Homo sapiens: one gene and its partners. The protein of the gene in region 3 purifies or fractionates together with the protein of the main gene of each other region. This does not show direct contact. Each region holds a gene or a part of one and is shown on either strand. Other genes may lie near its edges. The genes, in order: NAAA, NDUFAF7, RD3, GNB4, RAP1B and CSNK1G3.

The links.
Region 1: the proteins of RD3 (region 3) and NAAA purify together in Homo sapiens (affinity purification with mass spectrometry; one large-scale study listed by BioGRID and IntAct). This does not show direct contact.
Region 2: the proteins of RD3 (region 3) and NDUFAF7 purify together in Homo sapiens (affinity purification with mass spectrometry; 3 studies listed by BioGRID and IntAct, with this or other methods). This does not show direct contact.
Region 4: the proteins of RD3 (region 3) and GNB4 purify together in Homo sapiens (affinity purification with mass spectrometry, with the first as the bait; one large-scale study listed by BioGRID). This does not show direct contact.
Region 5: the proteins of RD3 (region 3) and RAP1B purify together in Homo sapiens (affinity purification with mass spectrometry, with the first as the bait; one large-scale study listed by BioGRID). This does not show direct contact.
Region 6: the proteins of RD3 (region 3) and CSNK1G3 purify together in Homo sapiens (affinity purification with mass spectrometry, with the first as the bait; one large-scale study listed by BioGRID). This does not show direct contact.

The regions. Positions count from the first base shown.
Region 1 is NC_000004.12:75,938,214-75,942,168, forward strand, and holds the start of NAAA (N-acylethanolamine-hydrolyzing acid amidase isoform 1 precursor), read right to left. Parts: upstream 2,801-3,955; 5' UTR 2,737-2,800; coding exon 2,531-2,736; intron 1,953-2,530; coding exon 1,788-1,952; intron 1-1,787.
Region 2 is NC_000002.12:37,230,432-37,234,457, reverse strand, and holds the start of NDUFAF7 (protein arginine methyltransferase NDUFAF7, mitochondrial), read right to left. Parts: upstream 2,801-4,026; 5' UTR 2,753-2,800; coding exon 2,698-2,752; intron 2,626-2,697; exon of another isoform or gene 2,579-2,625; intron 2,353-2,578; coding exon 2,192-2,352; intron 1-2,191. Other genes in the region: CEBPZ (CCAAT/enhancer-binding protein zeta), read left to right, coding at 2,891-3,046. UniProt on the Homo sapiens protein: Arginine methyltransferase involved in the assembly or stability of mitochondrial NADH:ubiquinone oxidoreductase complex (complex I).
Region 3 is NC_000001.11:211,482,163-211,485,662, forward strand, and holds part of RD3 (protein RD3), read right to left. Parts: intron 1-3,500.
Region 4 is NC_000003.12:179,416,971-179,420,470, forward strand, and holds part of GNB4 (guanine nucleotide-binding protein subunit beta-4), read right to left. Parts: intron 2,536-3,500; coding exon 2,429-2,535; intron 1-2,428. UniProt on the Homo sapiens protein: Guanine nucleotide-binding proteins (G proteins) are involved as a modulator or transducer in various transmembrane signaling systems.
Region 5 is NC_000012.12:68,613,899-68,617,398, forward strand, and holds part of RAP1B (ras-related protein Rap-1b isoform 1 precursor), read left to right. Parts: intron 1-3,500. UniProt on the Homo sapiens protein: GTP-binding protein that possesses intrinsic GTPase activity. Contributes to the polarizing activity of KRIT1 and CDH5 in the establishment and maintenance of correct endothelial cell polarity and vascular lumen.
Region 6 is NC_000005.10:123,613,177-123,615,362, reverse strand, and holds part of CSNK1G3 (casein kinase I isoform gamma-3), read right to left. Parts: intron 1,022-2,186; coding exon 967-1,021; 3' UTR 1-966. UniProt on the Homo sapiens protein: Serine/threonine-protein kinase. Casein kinases are operationally defined by their preferential utilization of acidic proteins such as caseins as substrates. It can phosphorylate a large number of proteins. Participates in Wnt signaling.

The DNA of each region.
Region 1 (3,955 bases), on a different chromosome or scaffold from region 3:
TCCAACATGAGAAGAAAGCATTTCCTTTGTTAATGCTAGTGAATTGAATGGTGCTATTAGGCAATTCAATAAATACCTTAGTATCAAATCCAAAAGTTAGAATGTTTTTACTAGAACTTTTGCTTTAATGTGTTTGAATATGGTGACTCCAACAGATGAGGGTAAAAATGATTCGTGATTTTTCATTGAGAAAGCTGTAAGTTAAAAATAGGAAAAAGTTGGAGGTAGGAGAGGGAGGTGGTAAAATTATAATAACTTAGTTCAACTGAAAAGCATGTTATTTAGCAGGCCTGTGTCTTTTCTGTGCCTGAAAGCATTTCCTGAAGAGGAAGGCAGTCCCAGTGCTTTTTAGCTTACTCTGCCTAGGTGTTCTGGGAAAATGCCTGGGCCAGTAAAGTTTCATTATTCCAAGATCTTTTCTACCCCCATCATCTTTAGGCAGCAAGAAGCTCTAAGTATGTACAAGAGGTTACGAGATGAAGCTAGTCTGCTGGCAAAACAATAAGTATTGAAGGAAGAAACCAAGTCAAAACCTCTCTTTATTCCAGGGCCTATTACTGAGCCCATAAACCTTTAGTGGTCCCCTGCACTTTGCCTGGGATCAACCACACACTCCATGTTGCTTTCACTTCTGGGTGCACTTTTTTTCTTTGATATGGAATCTCGCTTTGTCGCCCAGGCTGCAGAGTGCAATGGTGCCATCTTGGCTCACTGCAACCTCTGCCTCCTGGGTTCAAGTGATTCTCCTGCCTCGGCCTCCCAAGTAGCTGGGATTCACAGGTGCCCGCCACCAGGCCCTGGTAATTTTTTTGTATTATTAGTAGAGACGGGGTTTCACCATGTTGGCCAGGCTGGTCTTGAACTCCTGACCTCAGGTGATTCACCCGCCTCGGCCTCCCAAAGTGCTGGGATTACAGGCGTGAGCCACCGCGCCCAGCCTGGATGCACATTTTATCATGCCCACTTCCCGGTCCAAACACTGGCTGGCCCTATTAGAGCAGTGTTCCCTGTCGCCCCAGCCCTGGTGGACACAGACACTTCAGCCACGACACACATGAAAGGATAAATGCAGGGCGACAAATAAGGGCAGAGATGAGCCACTGCCAGTATAGAGCTGGAAGGCCACTGAGTTAACTAAAGGGTCCAGATGAGAGGAGGCTTAGTTTCAAAAACTTCCTGGAAAAGTACGTTTTGAGCAGAATTTTTTTTTTTTTTTTTTTGAGACAGAGTCTCGCACTGTCGCCAGGGCTGGTGTGCAGTGGCGCGATCGCGGCTCGCTGCAACCTCCGCCTCCCGGGTTCAAGTGATTCTCCTGCCTCAACCTCCTAAGTAGCTGGGATTACAGGCGCCCACCACCACGCCTGGCTAATTTTTTGTGTTTTTCGTAGAGACGGGGTTTCACTATGTTGGCCAGGCTGATCTCGAACTCCTAACCTCGTGATCTGCCCACCTTGGCCTCCCAAAGTGCTGGGATTACAGGTGTGAGCCAACGCGCCCGGCCTTTGAGCAGAATTTTAAAAGTACGCTACCTGGATTGGGGAAGAGAAAACCCGGGGCTACACGTAGAGGGAAAGTTTAGTGTTGAATCGGAGAATCTGCTTTCCCTCTCGAAGCCTACGATGTGCAGCTCAGATTTACCCAGAGAGGCAAAGAGGAAGCGCTGGAGGTTTCTAGGCAAGCAGGCACCGCCCTGTTTTTATCACACGGAAAATATGTCTCCTCCCGCTAGTCTGTGTCGGGGGCCCCCGCAAGCCCCGCGTTACTCCGCGCGGGCTTGGGGCACTCACACGGAGGACTCGTAGGCCAGGTTGACCAGAAGGCAGTCCGCCAGGCTGAGGTTCATGAAGTCACACATGCCGCGGATCTCGCCGGTGAAGGGCTGGGGCAGGAAGCGCTCCAGCTCCAGGACCACTTTTCCGATTAACACGTGCACCCACTTGGGGACTCTGTCCCTAGAAACAAAAAGCACAAGGGCGTCTGACCCGCTCAGAGGTCGGCGGCGTGCGACTGCGTGTGCACTGCGAGCGGGGCTACATCCTTAGGGCGTGAGGTCTCAGGGCCACTGCTCCCCAGTCAGTGGACCGCCCAGGCGCGGCGTCACTCAATCTGCAGCCTCCCGGGAGTGGGGGGAAGGGGGCGGGGGGAAGGCGGCGGGTAAGAAAACTCCGAATGGGGAGGGCGAGTGAGGCTGGTCCCAAAGGGGCAAGCTTGGAAGGCCCGCGAGGCCCGCAAGGAAGGCGCGGGTTGCCCCTCCTTGGTAGCTATGCAGCCCGGGCGACAACTCGCGCGCCACGCTGACCCGGAATGGCTCAAGGACTGGCGTGCCACGGGTGACACCGAACTTGAAAGCCGAACCTGCCGCGCTGGATTCTCCCCAACCCGGACGCTGCTCAGGGCGGCAGCCAAAACCAGTTCTCCAAGGGTGGCGGGGAGTAAAGCGTCCCCGTTTAAAGCACTCTGAGCAGCGCGCGTTTGACTCCGACCCGCAGGGCCGGTGTCCCCGCAGACCCCGTCCAGGGCCCCAGCTCACCCGATGACTTGCGCCATCGCGGCGCGCACCAAGTCCAAGTCGTAGTGCCGCAGCACGGGCAGCCAGCGCAGCTCGGGGACCGAGTCCAGGCTCACGTTGAAGCGCGGCGCTGCTGGGGGCGAGGCGGCTGACAGCCCGGCCCCGGCCAGCAGCAGCAGCAGCAGGGACGGAAGCCCCGGGCGCGCCTCCCGGTCCGCGGTCCGCATGGCTCGGGCTCCAGCGGCCGCAACTTGGAGACCTGCAGCCGCTGTCGGAGCCCGGGTAAGCCGTGGAGGAGGAGGAGCTGGGGCTGGGCTGCGATCGCTGGAGGTGGGGCCCGCGCACGACCCGCCCGCCCCTGTCACCGGCAAGCCGGAGCGGCGACACCTCCCGTCCCCGCCGCGCATCCACTAGCCCGCCCCGACTCTCCATCGGGCCTGGAGGTCCCTGACCGCGGGGCCGCTAAGGGTTGGGGCTGCCGGCAGCCGGCTTCTCACCAACTGCCGGTTCCAGCGCACCTGCTTGGGCCGAAGGAGTGTAGGCTGCGGCCGGGAGGGGCTGTAAGATTTTCAGTAGCGAAAAGGTGTCAGGAAAGACTTTTCAGTTAAACTTTGTTTGCTTGTTTGTTTGTTTGTTTGAGATGTAGTCTCACTCTATTGCCCAGGCTGGAGTGCGGCGGCGAGATATCCGCTCACTGCCAACTCCGCCTCCTGGGTTCAAGCGATTCTCCTGCCTCAGCCTCTCAAGTAGCTGGGATTACAGGCGTCCACCACCATACCTGGCTAATTTTTGTATTTTTGGTAGGGACAGGGTTTCACCATGTTGGCCAGACTAGTCTCGAATTCCTGACCTAAGGTGATCCACCGGCCTCAGCCTCCCAAAGTGCTGGGATTACAGGCGTGAGCCACCGCGCCTGGCTGGTAAAACATTTTTTTAAAGCTCAAAATTTAGTGAACATTTATCTGCTAAATATTTTTCGCGGACATTATCTCATTTAATCATCAAAACAAGCCAACAGGTAGGTTCCACTAATCCTCGCTTTACTGATGAGGAGTGTGAGGCTTGGAGAGGTGAAGCCATGTACCCGAGGTTACTCTGCTGGTGTGTCTCTGCACTGGCCTCCAAGTAAGGAGGTCTGAATCCACAATCCACCTTCACACCTAAGTTTCTTCACCTTTGAGTTCCCAATGTCTGGGAGACAAACTTAGGAAAATCTTAGTAAGGCTGGGACATTCTTAACGGTTAGCACAGTTGTCTGTGGGTAAAACAGGGTACATGTGTACATGAATAGTAGAAACTAAATGAAAGGGCCGGGCATGGTGGCTTAGGCTTGTAATCCCAGCAGTTTGGGGGGCTGAGGCGGGTGGATCACCTGAGGTCAGAAGTTTGAGACCAGCCTGGCCAACATGGTGAAACCCTGTCTCTACTAAAAATACAAAAATTAGC
Region 2 (4,026 bases), on a different chromosome or scaffold from region 3:
GTATCAAATGTTCTAAAAAATGTGATATATACACTTCTTTACTAGTGTATTAAAAAAATATAATTAGGCCGCGCACAGTGGCTCACACCTGTAATCCCAACACTTTAGGAGGCTGAGACAGGCGGATCATATGAGGCCAGGAGTTCAAGACCAGCCTGGCCAACAAGGCAAAACCCGATCTCCATTGAAAATACAAAAAACCTAGCTGGGCATGGAAACATACACCTGTAATCCCAACTACTCGGGAGGCTGAGGCACAAGAATCCTTTGAACCTTGAAGGTGGAGGTTGCAGTGAGCCAAGATTGCACTACTGCACTCCAGCCTGGGTGACAGAATGAGACTCTATCTCAAAAAGCCAACAAACAAAAAAGCCCATAATCAAGCCAAAGACCCAATAATTAACAAAATTTTGAAGTAAGGATGAGCACGATGAAATCCTGAGATGCCTGTGATCACTGTATTGTGATAAGGAAATACCAATGATTTCCACAGATGACAAAGTCACAGGTATTGCTGATGCTACTAGTTGCTGCGTATGTTCATAATTGAAGAAATGCTAAATTTCAGTTGAAAGTTAGTGAAAATAAAGGTATAATATTTTTTCCATCCAGCTTCATGAAACCCCTGATTTCTATTAAAGGGTCCCTAGGTTAAGAGCCTCTACATTTTAGAGTTACCCCTACTCTCAATGCTGGGAAACCTTCCTTTCTCTCAGTATGTTCTCCCTGGTTCCTTGGCTTTAAATATGACCTATATGCTGATGACGAGCAAATGTATATATGCCTGCCCAGTCTTTCTTCTGAACACCAGGCTCACTTTTTTTTTTTTTTTTTTTGAGACAGAGTCTCGCTCTGTTGCCCAGGCTGGAGTGCAATGGCGAAATCTAGGCTCACTGCAACCTCTGCGTCCCGGGTTCAAGCGATTCTCCTGCCTCCTGACTAGCTGGGATTACAGGCACAAGCCACCACGCCCGGCTAATTTTTGTATTTTTAATAGAGACGGGGTTTCACCAAGTTGGTCAGGCTGGTCTCAAACTCCTGACCTCGTGATCCACCCGCCTTGGCCTCCCAAAGTGCTGGGATTACAGGCGTGAGCCGCCACGTCCGGCCCTGAACGCCAGACTCTTACAGCGAATTGCCTACTTTCTATCTCCACCTGCATGTCACTGCTAACAAAATATGTATAAAATGCAGCTCCTGGTGTAGGCCCTCTCCCTAGTACTCCTCCAAACCTGGTCCTGTCTGTCTTAATCTCAATAAAAGGTACCATCATCACCCAACTGCTCAAGCTAAAAGTACGAATCAGCCTTGATTCCTCCGTTCCATCACTCAATCCATCGGCAAATCCTGTCAGTCCCTTTCTAAATCACCCTCTTCTATTTCTAGTACCACCACACTAGTCTAAGCCACCTATCTTGCAGCCCTGCCTAACCGGCATCGAAAGAAAGATACCGGCCTTGGGTAAACCTCGACACTAGAGTCACACTACCATATCCAACAACAATGGCCAATCTAACCCCAGAATTCCACAGAGGTCATATTTCAACCCAGCAAAAGATGAAATATTCTAAAATAAAGGACTATAGGCTTTCACCAAATGGCTCTGTAGAACAGACAAGGAAACGTGGGTCAGAAAGCTGTGACTGTGCCTAATCCTAGAACAGTGAAGACGACCCAGACTGCATTCTCAACTGCACATGTGAGAAAACCCAGCACATGTCTCCAATGCCAGCTGAAGCCATTCCAACACAGACGACTTTCCAGGCAGTAATTCCTATTTCCAGCTGCCTGTTGGAGATTTCTACCTAAGAGTCCCACACACTTCAAATTCATATACCAGCCTGAACTCTCCATCCTTCCTCCCGTATTCCTTCTCCCAAAGCAATGAATCCACACCACCCACCATCAGCCAAGTAGGAAAGTCATCCTTCCCGCATCATAAATCCAATCAGCTACATTCTGTCTCCTAAACACCCTTGGACCGTGTCCTCTCCTCTTTACTGGCACTGCCTCTGACGTGAGCCAGCCCTGACCAACTGACAAATTATCTGTCCCCAGGTCCTCAGAAATGGCTCTTCCCCTGGCAGGCACCCCCACTGCCTGGGCTGAGAACCTTCGGGCTTCTCCCTCCTGGCTTGCACCTCGCAAATCGGCTAGAGAGGGCCTAGTCCTCGGGCTACCCGACCCATACCTTGGCTGGATTAGTCAACACCTCCTTCATGTACTCGGCCACAGTGATGGGACCAGTAGACTTTATTTTGTACATAAGATGCCGCAGCATCGGCGTCACCGGGTTTTCTGCAGGCTCATTCCCGGAGCTGAAGTATTTCCCTCTCCAAATAAAAGGAATGGCTGCGAAAAACACAAATTAAACAGACCCCATGATAAATCTGACCATTCACGAGCGCAAGCCGCCTGAGCGTTTTCAAAACAGCTTCGTGAACCCTTAACCTCGCCCCACCGCAGACCGCGGGCTACTGTGCTTAGCACGCCCACGGGGCGCAGAGACAGCACCCACTTGCCCACGACTACGCAGCCCTATTGCGTTTGTACCGGACCCGTTTCCAGCCCAGGGTACCTTCAAGGTGGAAGTGAGCCCCCGAGCCCTTGATCCCCCGGTACCCTCAACTGAAGAGCTGAGGAAGGCGCCCCACGCGGCTTCCACGGCAACCGGGCTTCGAGGGGACTGACGCTTACCTGCGCGCGCCACGGCACACAACGGCCCCAAACCTGACCTCAGCAGTACACTCATGCTGAAATTCGCAGGCTAGCTCGCTCCGCCAGGAGCTGGGGCTTAGACCATTTCCGGGAGAAGACACGCCCCGACAGGAATTACGCCACTGGCAGAGCGGAAATAGGCTGAGTTTCACGCGCGTATGCTTTGCCCGCCATGGCCGCAGTCAAGGAGCCTTTGGAGTTCCATGCCAAGCGGCCTTGGCGCCCCGAGGAGGCAGTAGAAGATCCGGACGAGGAGGATGAGGATAATACTAGTGAAGCCGAGAATGGGTTCTCCCTGGAGGAAGTGTTACGGCTCGGAGGCACCAAGGTAACGGCCGCGGGCTCCGGGGAACGGGATCAGGCGTGGAGAGTTCCGAAGGTGGCTAGGCTGACTGCCCCGCCGCTTCCGCGCTGCGTAGAGCGCGGGCGTCCAGGACCGAGATCCCAGCCTCTGAAGCATGTGTTCGGTGCGCTTCCCACGCCGGTTTCCACTGCTGTTTACAAAAGAAAAGTTTCGAATTGAACGTTGTATTCTCTGGCTATTCTTAGGATGTAGGCGATCTTCTGATTTTATTGACGTGGTATAACCATCACACCATCAGGTCGGAGAGTGGCTTTTCTTGGTCCTGACCTTGTGGTATGAGTGTTTTGAACACCAGTGGTATTGGAATTTTCATTTCTGTTCTCATAGAGTACATGCACGTGTCACTGTATGCCCCAGAAGCCCTCTTTTTTGGAGCATCCTAATTAAGGGAGAGAAACAGTAAACAAACTTTTAAACACATAGTACAGCAGACGCGGGGTAGTGCTATAAAAGAAAATAAAACAAGGAAGGACGATAAGGAGTGGGAGCGCGTTAGTATTAAATGAGATGATCGACAAACACATCACGGAAATGTTTGAGCAGAATCCTAAAGGACAGGAAGGAGTGAGCTGCCATTCCAGTCAGTTGGAACAGCAAATGCAAAGACAGGCAGAAGAGTGCCTAACCTATTCCATGAGCAGCCAAAATGCCAGTGTAGCAGAGGCAGAGTGAGTTAAGGGGAGAATAGTAAGAAAGGAGGGCCGAGGGGTCAGAGGGCAGGCTTTTGCTCTGAGTTTGATGCAAAACCACTGGAAGATTTTAAGCAGATAAGGAACAGAAATTAACTTTGTTTTTAATATTATTTTGTTTGGAGACTGGACTTTCAAGGTGGAGGAGTTAGTTAGAGATAGGCAGATTCACAGTTTGCTCTGTGCTTGTGTATATTTAAGTTTTGAATAGGTAATATATACACATGAAACACGTGGTGCAAACTTTAAAAGATA
Region 3 (3,500 bases):
GGTGAGCCAAGATCACACCATTGCACTCCAGCCTGGGCAAAAAGAGCAAAACTCCGTTTAAAAAAAAAACTGTATGGATTAACATTAACCTGAAAAAAACCAACTTACCCACCATTCATTCATTCAGCATTAATCAAGCACTGTGTACACATCTGTGGAGGGACATAAACACGAAAGGATGATGCCAGGATCCTGCTCTCCAGGAGAGGCAAGATTTGTTGAGTAAACGCTGCAACATCAATGGAGAGAGGGAACTCTGCTGGTGAAGCATAGAGTCAGCACTGATGTGGGAGGGGAAGGTGTGACCCTAGATGGTGAAAAGTGCCAGAGTGGGCTGAGAGGTGAGTGCGGGCTTCAGACACATGGGCTGATGGAGAAGGGGTCCCAGGTGGAGGGAGGATCCAGCCATAGAACAAGGTGAGACAGGTGGAGGTCTGACAGCAGCGAGCCTAACTCATCATGGAGCCCCCACACAGGCCTGCTAAATACAAATTTAGTGAAGGACAGACCGAGTAGATGAATGAACGAATGAATGAATGGGTGAATGAGCTACTCCATGACCTGTCAGATGTGGTCTGTGCTTCTGACAACAGTGAAGGGAAATGACATTCCCGAGCTAAAGCCTGAAGTGGGTCTTCGAGGGGTCTCACTTCATCTTTCTGCACCTTTCTCCCTCCAAGCCGTTCCCCCTTCCATGCACCAATGATCCCATTTCTGCTTAGACCCTCCATACGCAGAGAAAAGAGGTCAGATGAACTCAGTCTCAACAGCATGGTGATGAAGGAGGTGTCACCTCCAGAGGACACATGCATTTTTAGGCCACCCTCCCATCACCCTGCACCCCAGTGCTTAATGCAGAGAAATGAATTGTTAAGGTAAATAATCAGACACAAAGGAGAATATTATGATGGGGTAGCAGCAGCCTTCTGGAAGGCCACAGCTAAATCTCTACTTACCGATGGAGACTTGAATGACCAACTCCTTTAGCAACCAACAGAATTAAGAAATCTGAAAACAGGCCAGGCATGATGGCTCATGCCTGTGATTCCAGCACTTTGGGAGGCCGAGGAGGGCAGCTCACTTGAAGCCAGGAGTTTGAGACCATCCTGGCCAACATGGTGAAACCCCATCTCTACTAAGAATACAAAAATTAGCTGGGCATGGTGGCACATGCCTGTAGTCCCAGCTACTCAGGAGGCTGAGGCAGGAGAATTGCTTGAACTGGGGAGGCGGAGTGAGCTGAGATGGTGCCACTGCATTCCAGCCTGGGTGACAGAGCGAGACTCCAACTCAAAAAAAAAAAAAAAGAAATCTGAGAACTTTCATTCTCCACGCAACCTAAGCCTATCACCAATGGAGGCTTCAGATTACACAGCTGACCGCTTCCTGGGAGAGTGGGACGAAAGGACGAACCATTAGACCCTACTCCTGGGGTCAGTAGCAGCTAGGACGTTTACTTCTTAGCCCTTACCTGCTTTATGTGCCCAGAATAAAGAGGTTGGGTAGTACTGTGTGTACTGGGGGGTGGGAGTGCAGGGGTGGGGGTGTCATGGCCAGAGAGCCATGAGCATCAGGAGCCTCGCCTAAGGCTAAAGGATTCCATCAGTTCAGGCACAAGGACTGTAACTGTAACTGAATGTGTCACTTTCCCTGGAGTGTTTGTATTTTTAAAAGTCTATGGGTTAGATTGATGCTTAGCACCAAAAGAGTGAATGGTGTAGCCACTGAAGAGCACTGCGAGCATGCGGAGTCACTGTTCCTGCAAGGGCTACTGAATGTGCTGGGCTACTGCACAGCTCCATGCCTTTGTCATGTTCCTCCCTCTGCCTGAAATGCCCGCCCATTCTACATGGAGACCAGGTCTAGGGTCAGCACCCTCGGAAGCTTTTCTTGACCTTCCCATCTCCGAGGTAGATGTGGCCACTCTCTACCTTGTCCCCTGACTGCACTCTGCACAGGTGCTTTTCAGAGCTCAGGAGCACTTTACGGAACGTGACTGCCTACCTCCCCTGACCCCGGGTGTGGTATGTGGTCAGGGCCTGTGCCTTATTCACCTTTCCATCCCTGGGGCTGGACATGTAGTCAGTAGGCACTTAATAAATAGCAAACAAATGAATGAATGAATGCCCGAACAAAGGAACGAATAAATGATGGAGAAGCTATAACAGTTGGATCAAGGAACAAGCCCCACAGACCTGACCTGACCTGATCCTGAACAAGAAGGCATTTTCCAAAGCTCCTTAGGGAGCTTTTTTTTCTTCTTAATCTGGGTTTGAATTTGAGCTGAAAGAAGAGAGCAAGAGAGTGGCTTGGCAGCAGAGGGTTCTCCTGTGGCCGGGAGAAATGTGAGAGAAGAAATGGAAGACACTGAAGAAAACTTTTGCCTCCAGGGCAAATTGACTGCAGAATATCCATGCCACAGCCACATAAGCTAACAAACTATTAAATAAAGTATGTTCCGTTTCCTCCCTTGTGAACTATACCTTCCTAACAACATGGAGGGTGAGATTCAGACAGCATTCTTGGACTCCTCAGAGTTCTTCTCTGACACATGGAGGTGGGTTGGGACTGCTCTCGGCCCTCAGCCTGCCTCCCTCTCTTCCCACCTCCGCTTCATCCCACATGGTAAGGGGCCTTGCAAACACGTGTGGGGACACCCCAGCTTTCACCTCCAAGGCCCAGCCACACCCCTGCAACCAGCCACCTCTGTGCCACCCTCTGACTTAGGGTTGCTCGCTGGCAGTGCTGTCTGCCCTGCTCAGTGGCCCCTTCTGTGGGGAAGTGGGCGGGCGACTGTCTGGCAGGGAATTCTGATTTCAGTCCCTAAGCCTGACCTCGAAGGGAAGTGCCCACAGGGTGGCATGTCTCCTGGACCCCCAGACACTTCACCTCAAGGCAGAGTAAGGCCAGAAGCAAGCCCGAGTACAGTCTGGGGTGCAGCCTGTATGGGGTCCTGCTTCCCTGGGCTTAAGGCTCCCGACCTGAGCTGGCCGCTAGAGAAGGTGCTTTGTGACCCACCTCCCCCATCTCCAGATGGCAGGGGCTGAGTGGAGTGATCCCACCTGAGTCCTGAATTTTGTGGGCTCTAAGCCTCTTTGGCCCAGGTGTAGGGTCTCAACAGGGGAGGAGGGTGTTCTGAGTCATCTCCTCCCCATCCCCTCACTTCCCGCAACTCTGGCCAGGACTGGAGGCTTTGGCAGAAACAAGATTTCTGCTGGTGCTATTTCTGTCCCCAGTGCCAGCTGCTCCCCCAGAAGGCTCTTCAGTGGGTCCGATTAAGTTCTTAAGGGCAAAGGAGGGAGGGAGAGACAGAGGGAGGAAGAACAGAGACAGAGAGGCAGGAGGGCAGGCTAGACAGACTCCAGAGGGGGCTGCCTTATCCCAGGGTATCCCCAGAACCTGAACCTCGGCTGAGACTGGGAAGGACGTGGTGCCTGGGGGAGGTCTGTTAAACAACAGAAAGAGTGACCTTTGGTGAGTGTCTGGCACAATTTTCTACA
Region 4 (3,500 bases), on a different chromosome or scaffold from region 3:
GTACAACGCAGGATACATCGCCTGCTCTTGAGGCCTCTACCATCTGGTGAAGATAAGACATTTACTCATATTTATATTAAATCAAGTAAGTAAAAACTGTCAGAAGAGGGGTATAAAATAAATGCCACAGGAGAGTAAAGGAGGAACAATGGCTAGATGAGTTAATCACAAGAGAATGAGTCTTGAAAGAAAATGTTGAGAGCTAAAGATACAGAAAAGGCTGTATTTTAGGAGAAAGCTATGTAAGATCAATGACAGGTAGAAAAATACACTGAGTGTTGTTTCAGGAATTGTGGGTCTTCCAGTAGTACAGTTTGTGAGAAAATGGAAAAATAAGTTGAGAAAAGCAGACTGGGCTTAAACTGCAGAAAGCTTTGTTAAACTAAAGAGTATGAACTCCTAAGTAATTTTAGCCACTAAATTTTTTGTTTTGTTTGGATTTTTTTTTTTTTTTTGAGACAGACACTCACTGTGACACCCAGGTTAGAGTGCAATGGCACGATCTCAGCCCACTGCAACCTCCGCCTCTCAGGTTCAAGTGATTCTCCTGCCTCAGCCTCCCGAATAGCTGGCATAACAGGTGTGCACCACCACGACTGGTAAGATGGGATCTCAACATGTTGGTCAGGCTGGTCTTGAACTCTTGACCTCAAGTGATCCACTCGCTTGGCCTCCCAAAGTTCTGGGATTACAGGCATGAGCCACCATGCCCAGCCTTGTTTGGAATTTTTACTTTTCACCATGGTGTAAAATTCAAAAAATAAAAAAGGATATACAGAAGAAAATTTAAAAAGCACCTTCCTGGGCCTATCATCAGCCACCCAGTTCCTTTCCCTAGAGGTAAATAACATTATCAGATTCTTGGGTAGCAATCACTACAAGGTTTTACAAAAGGGAAGATCTATCTGATAGTGGGGTATAGGATGGCATCTAAAGAAAATTCTTTAGAAATCAATTGGCATCATCAGCATAAGAGTTGAGGAGAACATTAAGTAATGGATTGATAACACGGATGGGTGGGAAGACTATGTGAGATAGGTTCCTGGATGATGGTTTCATTTTTCTATGAAGATTAACAGTCTTCAGAAAACGTTTAAGGAAAGCAAGAACCATAAACATTGTTTCAAGTTACTATATTTTAAGTTAAAATTTTGCTTTATCAACAGGTAAATTATTTTTATCTTCAACTCCTTTAAGAAAAAGAATAAGACATTCGGCCAGGCGCGGTGGCTCACACCTGATTAATCCCAGCACTTTGGGAGGCTGAGGCGGTTGGATCACCTGAGGTCAGGAGTTCAAGACCAGGCTGGCTAACATGGTGAAACCCCCTCTCTACTAAAAATACAAAAATTAGTCAGGCGTGGTTGTGGATGTCTGTAATCCCAGCTACTTGGGAGGCTGAAGCAGGAAAATCCCTTGAACCTGGGAGGCAGAGGTTGCAGTGAGCCGATACCACACCATTGTACTCCAGCCTGGGCAACAAGAGTGAAACTCTGTCTCAAAAAAAAAAAAAAAAAAGAAAAAAGAAAAGAAAAAGAAAAAGATTAAGACATTATGTCAGTTGCCAATTATATAATTTTATGTATCCCTTCGTAAGAGGCACATGTTCTATATTATTGTGGTCAAGTATCCCAATTAGAGCAACAATTGAGGCTTCTTCTACTTTATAATTTTAGTGTCTCCTGGGAGAAGAGAATAAATGTGCAACTTCTATTAAAACATAGAAGTTTCTTGGTTTAGGCATTTCCCATTAAGATTAACCAAATCAAAGGAACAAGTAAACCACTGTGATAGCAGACACATCTGCTATTGCCAGACAATGGAAAAACATAGGCTGTGCTGTAGCCTTATACACATAGTGAATGACAGTGATGAGCAATCTATCTAACTGTAGGCCACGTAGCAGCTGTGCGTGTGCCTGTGCACCTGCAGATGGTCAGCTTGCACATTCAAGCACACACCTTTCTGTGATGCAGTCGAGGGAGTAAAAGATGTATTCAGTACAAACACCTTTGTTTCATGTAATTTCCATTATTTGCGAATTTATGTAATAACAAACTATAGCAATATCCAAAAACTTGCACATAGGTGTTCAATACGTATTTGCTTATGAACTGAAATTTCAAGCTTCATATACAGTAAAAACGCTTTGTGCCTATTTAAAAAACAAAGAATGTCTGCAATGTTCCACTGCAAAGAAAAGGAATCCTCTTCTGAACAGTTGTCCTGGATTCCATATTAAAAATGTTTATACTTTTAAAGAGTCAATTAATATTCTTATTGAAAGCAGCATGTTCATCTGAGATGCATTTTCTGCAAACGCTTCATGAATATATTCTGTTTTTAAACAAAGAAAATGCAAATGATGGTTCTTAATGAAAATAATTCTGCAACAGTTTAAAAATGACAGGTAATGACAGGTACAAACCTGGAATCGTATCCCCAATGCATAGCATAGATTTTAGCTAGGTGGCCCCTCAGTGTACGTCTTGTTCGCATTTGTATTCGACCCACAGAGTCCATATTTGATGTAATCTTTTGAAAGCAACAAAAATGTTATTCTTTACCTTAATCATAGTTCATGAGATAACTTGAACTAGAAACAGTGAGGAGTTAAAAAAGCAAACATAAAGTACATTTATAGTAACTGAAGGTAATTTAATGTATATAATTCCACAGAGCCGTTATGGGATCAATATGTTCCTGAAAATTATGATTAGTTTAAAATAATCCTATGTGCTGTTATAAATAATATACATAAATGTATAATAAGAATGCCTTCTGCAGACTATTAACTAAAAAGAATAGATATACCTCTATGCTTTAGTAAAAAACCAGCCACAAATAAAAATCTAGAGGCAAATGATCACAGTAAACATTTACAATTTTAACTGTAAGAAAGCCAATTTTATATTTGTAGAGCACATAAAATACTTCCTTAATAATAATGATCAATATTAATTAAACATGAAGCCTTCCCAAGATTTTTTAAAAATATTAGTCTTCTTGACCCCTCTTACTATCTCATTCCCAACCTAAGAGTTTTCATAAGGAAAAAAACACTTAATCAGGGTATACCAAAAAGAATCAGAAACTATTTAAAAAGAAGCATAAACTATATGAATCTATACATACATATATATATACATACATAAATATATATAATTTTTTTTTTTTCGAGACAGAGTCTCACTTTGTCTCCTGGGCTGGAATGCAGTAGGGATCTCGGCTCATTGCAATATCTGCCTCCCAGGTTCAAGCGATTATCCTGCCTCAGCCTACCAAGTAGCTGGGATTACAGGCAGGCACCACCATGACCAGCTAACTTTCATGTTTTTTTTTTTTTTCTAGTAGAGACAGGGTTTCACCATGTTGGCCAGGCTGGCCTCAAACTCTTGACCTCAAGTGATCCTCCCACCTCGGCCTCCCAAAGTACTGGGATTACAGACATGAGCCACCATGCTTGGCCTTGAAAATATATATACATATATATATATATA
Region 5 (3,500 bases), on a different chromosome or scaffold from region 3:
TTCAGAATTCCAATATTTTCTCTTAGCTGTATAAAGGTAAAGTGACCCCCTCCCATAATAAAGAGCTACCATGTAAGGAGGGTATAGCAAAGAATTAATTATTAAAATAACTAGATCCATTTTTGTAAGGATCCTTTCAATTGTATCTTCCTATCTAATTCAAGATTGGTGGAAGGTCTATGCAAAGATTGATAACATGGTAACTGATTAGACATGTTATTTTAAATGCAGTCCAAGATTTGGATGAAAAGCTCACGTTCAGGTTTTTTTTGCCTTTTGTTGTAGGTACTCGATAAATATTTATTGAGGTAGTGAAACTAATCTGAAATTGGATCTGATACAGAGAATTTGACCGATTTTACAAGGTGTCCATTTACTTTTTCCCCATAAGTATTGTTTAAATAGGCTGTTTTATTATCGACTATCACACAGATCTTACTGATTTGCCTCATTTCCTTAAAGATGTAAAATAACTGTGTTTCTCTGTATGTTTGTGTTGCTAAAGAGGAGGTTGGGTATTGATCTGCAGTTTCTAGATTTGACTGGCACTAGGAGTAATTTAGCATTTATGAATTAGCTATTTACTGCTGTTTTATAGCAGTGATGTCACGTGTTCACTCTATAGAAAAGTTAGGTAAAGATTGGTCTGTCTTAAACTTTCTGAGACATAGGTTGTGACTAAAAATATGCCCTGGGTTTTCTTCCCCCTCCTGTCATTATTGAGGACTCCATGGTCTAAGAGATTAGGCTGAAGTTTTTGTTAGCCTTTTCAAATTGAATTGAATTTTAGAACAAGTTAAGACATTTTGGCTGATGCAGTGATTCATTGTAACATTGGACAAAATTTTTAGTTCAGCCATCTGTAAACAGGAGTACTGTACCATGGCTCTGGAAGCTAGTGTTTTTCTGTGTTCATAGATTATTTTGCAATGGTATTGAAAGGTACTAATTGCCATTTGAGGTCTTAAGTTCTTTGTAAATCTCATAAGCACAGTGGAAGCAGTAGCTACAAAGAATAGATGAATTTATCCATTTGCAGTAAAAACTGATTTGTATGTAATCTGTTGTACTTTGAACCCAGTTGAGCACTGGATTCTAAAACAAGTCTCTTTGGTCGTGGAGAGTTTCTATTTTAAACAAGAAAAGTTATCAGGAACTTTTGTGCTGCCTTAAAAACATCACTTTTTAAAATTCACCAGCAACAAAAAATAGTATCACTTACATTCCGTATTTCATAACATTGGACTATTTATTCCTAATGTTGGTCAAATCAAGGGTACAGTAGCAACTGATTATTTAAGCAGTAATTTAGAAAGATTTTTTTTCCTTTGAATCAGTAGAGGGTCAAAATTTTTAAAACTTTCCAAAGAACCTTAAAACAGGAAAAAATGAAAATGTGGGGGAAATGTACCAGTTTTTTTTAATTTAAATTCCCTAAAATAAAAATATTTACAACATGAGTTACAGAATTTCCATCTGATTTTTATTGTACAGGAGGAGTATATTCTGTGATATCAGTATACAATTCAAAATACAAAAAATTACCTGGGCGTAGTGGGAGGTGCCTGTAATCCGAGCTGCTTGGGAGACTGAGGCAGGAGAATCGCTTGAACCTGGGAGGCGGAGGTTGCAGTGAGCCAAGATCGCTCCACTGCACTCCAACCTGGGCGACAGAGTGAGACTGTCAAAAAAAAAAAAATTACTTAGATTGTGTATGAGGTGCCTGCATACTAGAAATGTTCTTTTGAGTTACAAATCTGTCTCTCTGACCATAGAGAGTAATTATTTAATCTTGTGAGTTTGAGTTTTATATCAAACCATTTCCTAAAGCTTACTTGTAATTACTTTTACTTTATGTTTTTGTAGTTATACATGTGTATATATATACACATACATACACACACACATATACATATATCAGTGAGACCTTTTAAATTTTAGCTGAATTCTGGTTTCATAACTTGTGATTTTTTTTCCGGTACTGGGGGATTGAATGTTTTTAACTGTTGTGCAGATAGACTGAATAAAGGAAGTGAGCATCCATTAAAAACTCTAGTAAATAATTTGGATTTTTTTTTTTTTTGAGATGGAGTCCCACTCTGTCGCCCAGGCTGGAGTGCAGTGGCACGGTCTCCGCTCACTGCAAGCTCCGCCTCCAGGGTTCACGCCATTCACCTGCCTCAGCCTCCCGAGTAGCTGAGACTACAGGCGCCCGCCACCACACCTGGCTAATTTTTTGTGTTTTAGTAGAGACGGGGTTTCACTGTGTTAGCCAGGATGGTCTGGATCTCCTGACCTCGAGATCCACCTGCCTCGGCCTCCCAAAGTGCTGGGATTACAGGCGTGAGCCACTGTGCCCGGCCTTTGTTTTTTTGTTGTTGTTGTTTTGTTTTTTGTTTTTTTTGAGACAGAGTCTCGCTCTGTCAGTCAGGCTGGAGTGCAGTGGCACGATCTCAGTTCACCACAGCCTCCGCCTCCAGGGGTCAAGCAGTCCTCCAGTCTAAGCCTCCCGAGTAGCTGGGAATACTGTGCCTGGCTAATTTTTTTTTTTTTTTTTTTTTTTTTTGAGACGGAGTCTCTCTCTGTCCCCCAGGCTGGAGTGCAGTGGTGCAATCTCAGCTCACTGCAACCTCCGCCTCCAGGTTCAAGCAGATCTCCTGCCTTAGCTAGTACTACAGGCGCACACCACCGCACCCAGCTAAGTTTTGTATTTTTAGTAGAGAGGGGATTTCACCATATTGGTCAGGCTGGTCTCGAATTCCTGACCTCAGGTGATCCACCTGGCTTGGCCTCCCAAAGTGCTGGGATTACAGGCATGAGCCACCGCGCCCGGCCAGGTTTTGTATTTTTTGTAGAGACGTTTCGCCATGTTGCCCAAGCTCACCTCAAACTCGTGGGCTCAAGGGATCTGCCCATCTTGGCCTCCCAAGTGCTGGGATTATAGGCATGAGCCACTGTGCCTGGCCCAGCATTTCACTAAGTAACTTTATTTTAAAAATATACAGTGAACTGATTGCCGAAGTGGTGGATTGCCTCTACCTGTTTCCTTTTTCTTTGCCTTGTAGGAAGGGAAAAAGATGAAAGGAAACATGTTTTGTCTATTTAGTAGCAATTTTTGGTGAAAGCTTCTGGAAAGGAAATGGAAAATGCTGGGTAAAATGAAATTATAATTATCTGTGTATTCTAAAATTTATCCTCACATTAGAATATATTTTTCAAAGTTACTTTATACTAAATTCAGGGACTTTCTAAGTTCTCAGTTAATAGAACTGAAAGGGTATCAATAAAATAAGGACTATATATATAATCTATTTTTACTTAGTTTTTATGCGCCAAAAGGTATGTATGTTGCATCCAGCTGTTTGTTACCTTGTGTTTTAAAGTTGCAGTTAGAATGTGGAATCCTATTACTACATTGTGCCAACATATTTGTGGCTGATGCTTCTAAGTTATCCACAAGCTTCTCAATACAATAGCAAAATGCAGGAATTCCTCTGGAA
Region 6 (2,186 bases), on a different chromosome or scaffold from region 3:
ACATCCAAAGTTTTCTGCTTAAGGGAGAATGTAATCATTCAGCAGTAAGTTTCGGTGAGATTTCTTTAGGCTTCCACCTTATACACTGCAACAAGGTTCACATTTACTACCTCTCCTTAGTGTATTTCTTTATAACTCCAACATACATCACTTTTTAAAGTATTCATTTCTTGCTGTCTAACATACATTATTATTTGGAAGCATAAAGTTACATTGTACAAATATTTTGCATTTTTAAAAATAAGCGCTTTTGCCACTTCTGCAACACAGTACTTCACATAGTGATGCAACAAAAGCGGAGCACATATTTACCACACTCCTTAAGATTCATTTTACCACCACCATCTGCCGAACCCATATTGCTTTTTCCTCAGTACCTCTGGGCAGTGACTGTACCATGATTTCACGGAGAGAATGTTAATATGACTTATGAATAACAGTACCATCAGTAATACTGAAATCAATGCAGATGTCACAAAATATGAACTTCTCAAGGAATAACTTCTTTTAAATATTTGGGCAACTCTGTTTTCTCTGTTGTATTATCCACTGAGAAAAGAAAATTCCTGTTTGATTATGCTCTTACAGAAGTTATAAAAAACCAGATTAGGTATATAACTGGTTGACACTTAAGATACTGTACTGCTTTCTACAACAGAAGAACTTCTGGAAAATGTTCTATGGAACTATATTCATTGATACCACCTCATTGGTCCATTCCATTCACTGATGGGCAAAGCACTCATGTTTTGACAAAACTTTAAAGCTTCCATAAAGGTTAAATTAGAGAAAAAAAAAAAAAGAAAAAGAATGTAAGACAACCACAAAATGAAGTATGAAAGTATGACATTTTTGTTTCTAAGAGTGAGTCCTTGAAAATATACGTGGTCACTACAGAGATGATTTTAATCACAAGACAGCAGATGAACATGTAAGTAACTCCCCAGGATCTGTCTGTGTCCAGAGTCATTTGTGGCGCTGTATGGTTTTCCTTTTCCTTCGTTTGAAAAAACAGCAGCACCTGCAGATGAGGGAAACACTCTTTTTATTTTAAAAGCACTAAAATATCACAAAGTTGACTGTATCACTTTAACTTAAATGATCATAAAAAGCAACAGGCTAGTGCAAGATAAACAGTGATTACACCAATGAAGCATACGTATTAGTGAAAATATGGCAGAGCTATTACTATTATGTTTCATTCACATGCCTTTTAAGAATAGCAAGACATTCTATGCAACATAAAAAGGAGCCATTAAATTCAAAAGGTTTTTCACTAAGAGTAATTAAGAATTTCATTCTATGCATTCTCACCCTTTCTCCCTGATATTTATATGTGACTGTTGAAGCCATTAGGAAGGCAATAATGATCCTAACATTGGGGAGTTTATTCTCACCAATAATCAGTTTAGACTCCAAAAATAAAAAGACACTCCAATATACACTAGTCAACATTTTCCATCATATTAAAAAAGTGAAAGACAGAAAATACATTATATAGAATACCAAGACTGGCAATTTTGAATTCTTTAAGGGTTAAAGAAGGTCAAGCTTATTGAAAGTTTAGTTAAGGTAAAAACTATGCTTAATATTTAAAGTAGCACAATTGAGGTGATTCCATTTTACAAGTCAAAACTGTATATGCAAAAAAATATAATACTGACTTTTATTTCTAGGTGAAAAAAAATCTTGGCTGGGCACAGTGGCTCATGCCTGTAATCCCAGCACTTTGAGAGGCCGAGGCAGGAGGATTGCTTGAGCTCAGGAGTTTAAGAATTCAAGACCAGCCTGGACAATACAGCAAGACCCCATCTCTAAATATCTCTCTCTCTCTAACTACATATACACATACACAAATATCTCTAAATATATATATACACACATACATATATAAATGTACACACATATATTATATTATACATACATACGCACACACACACACACACACACATGCACTGGACATGGTGGCACCCGCCTGTTACCCCATCTCCTTGAGAGGCTGAGGCAGGAGGAATGTTTGATCTATGATTGTGCCACTGAACCCCAGTCTGTGTGACAGGGCAAGACCCTGTCTCTAAAAGAGGAGATGAACACATCAAGGCTGCTGTGGGAAAATGCTGTGGTCTGGTATGAACTGAAAAAATCACTGATCTGCTCCCACCAAAAAAAAAAAAGAAAAAAATTAA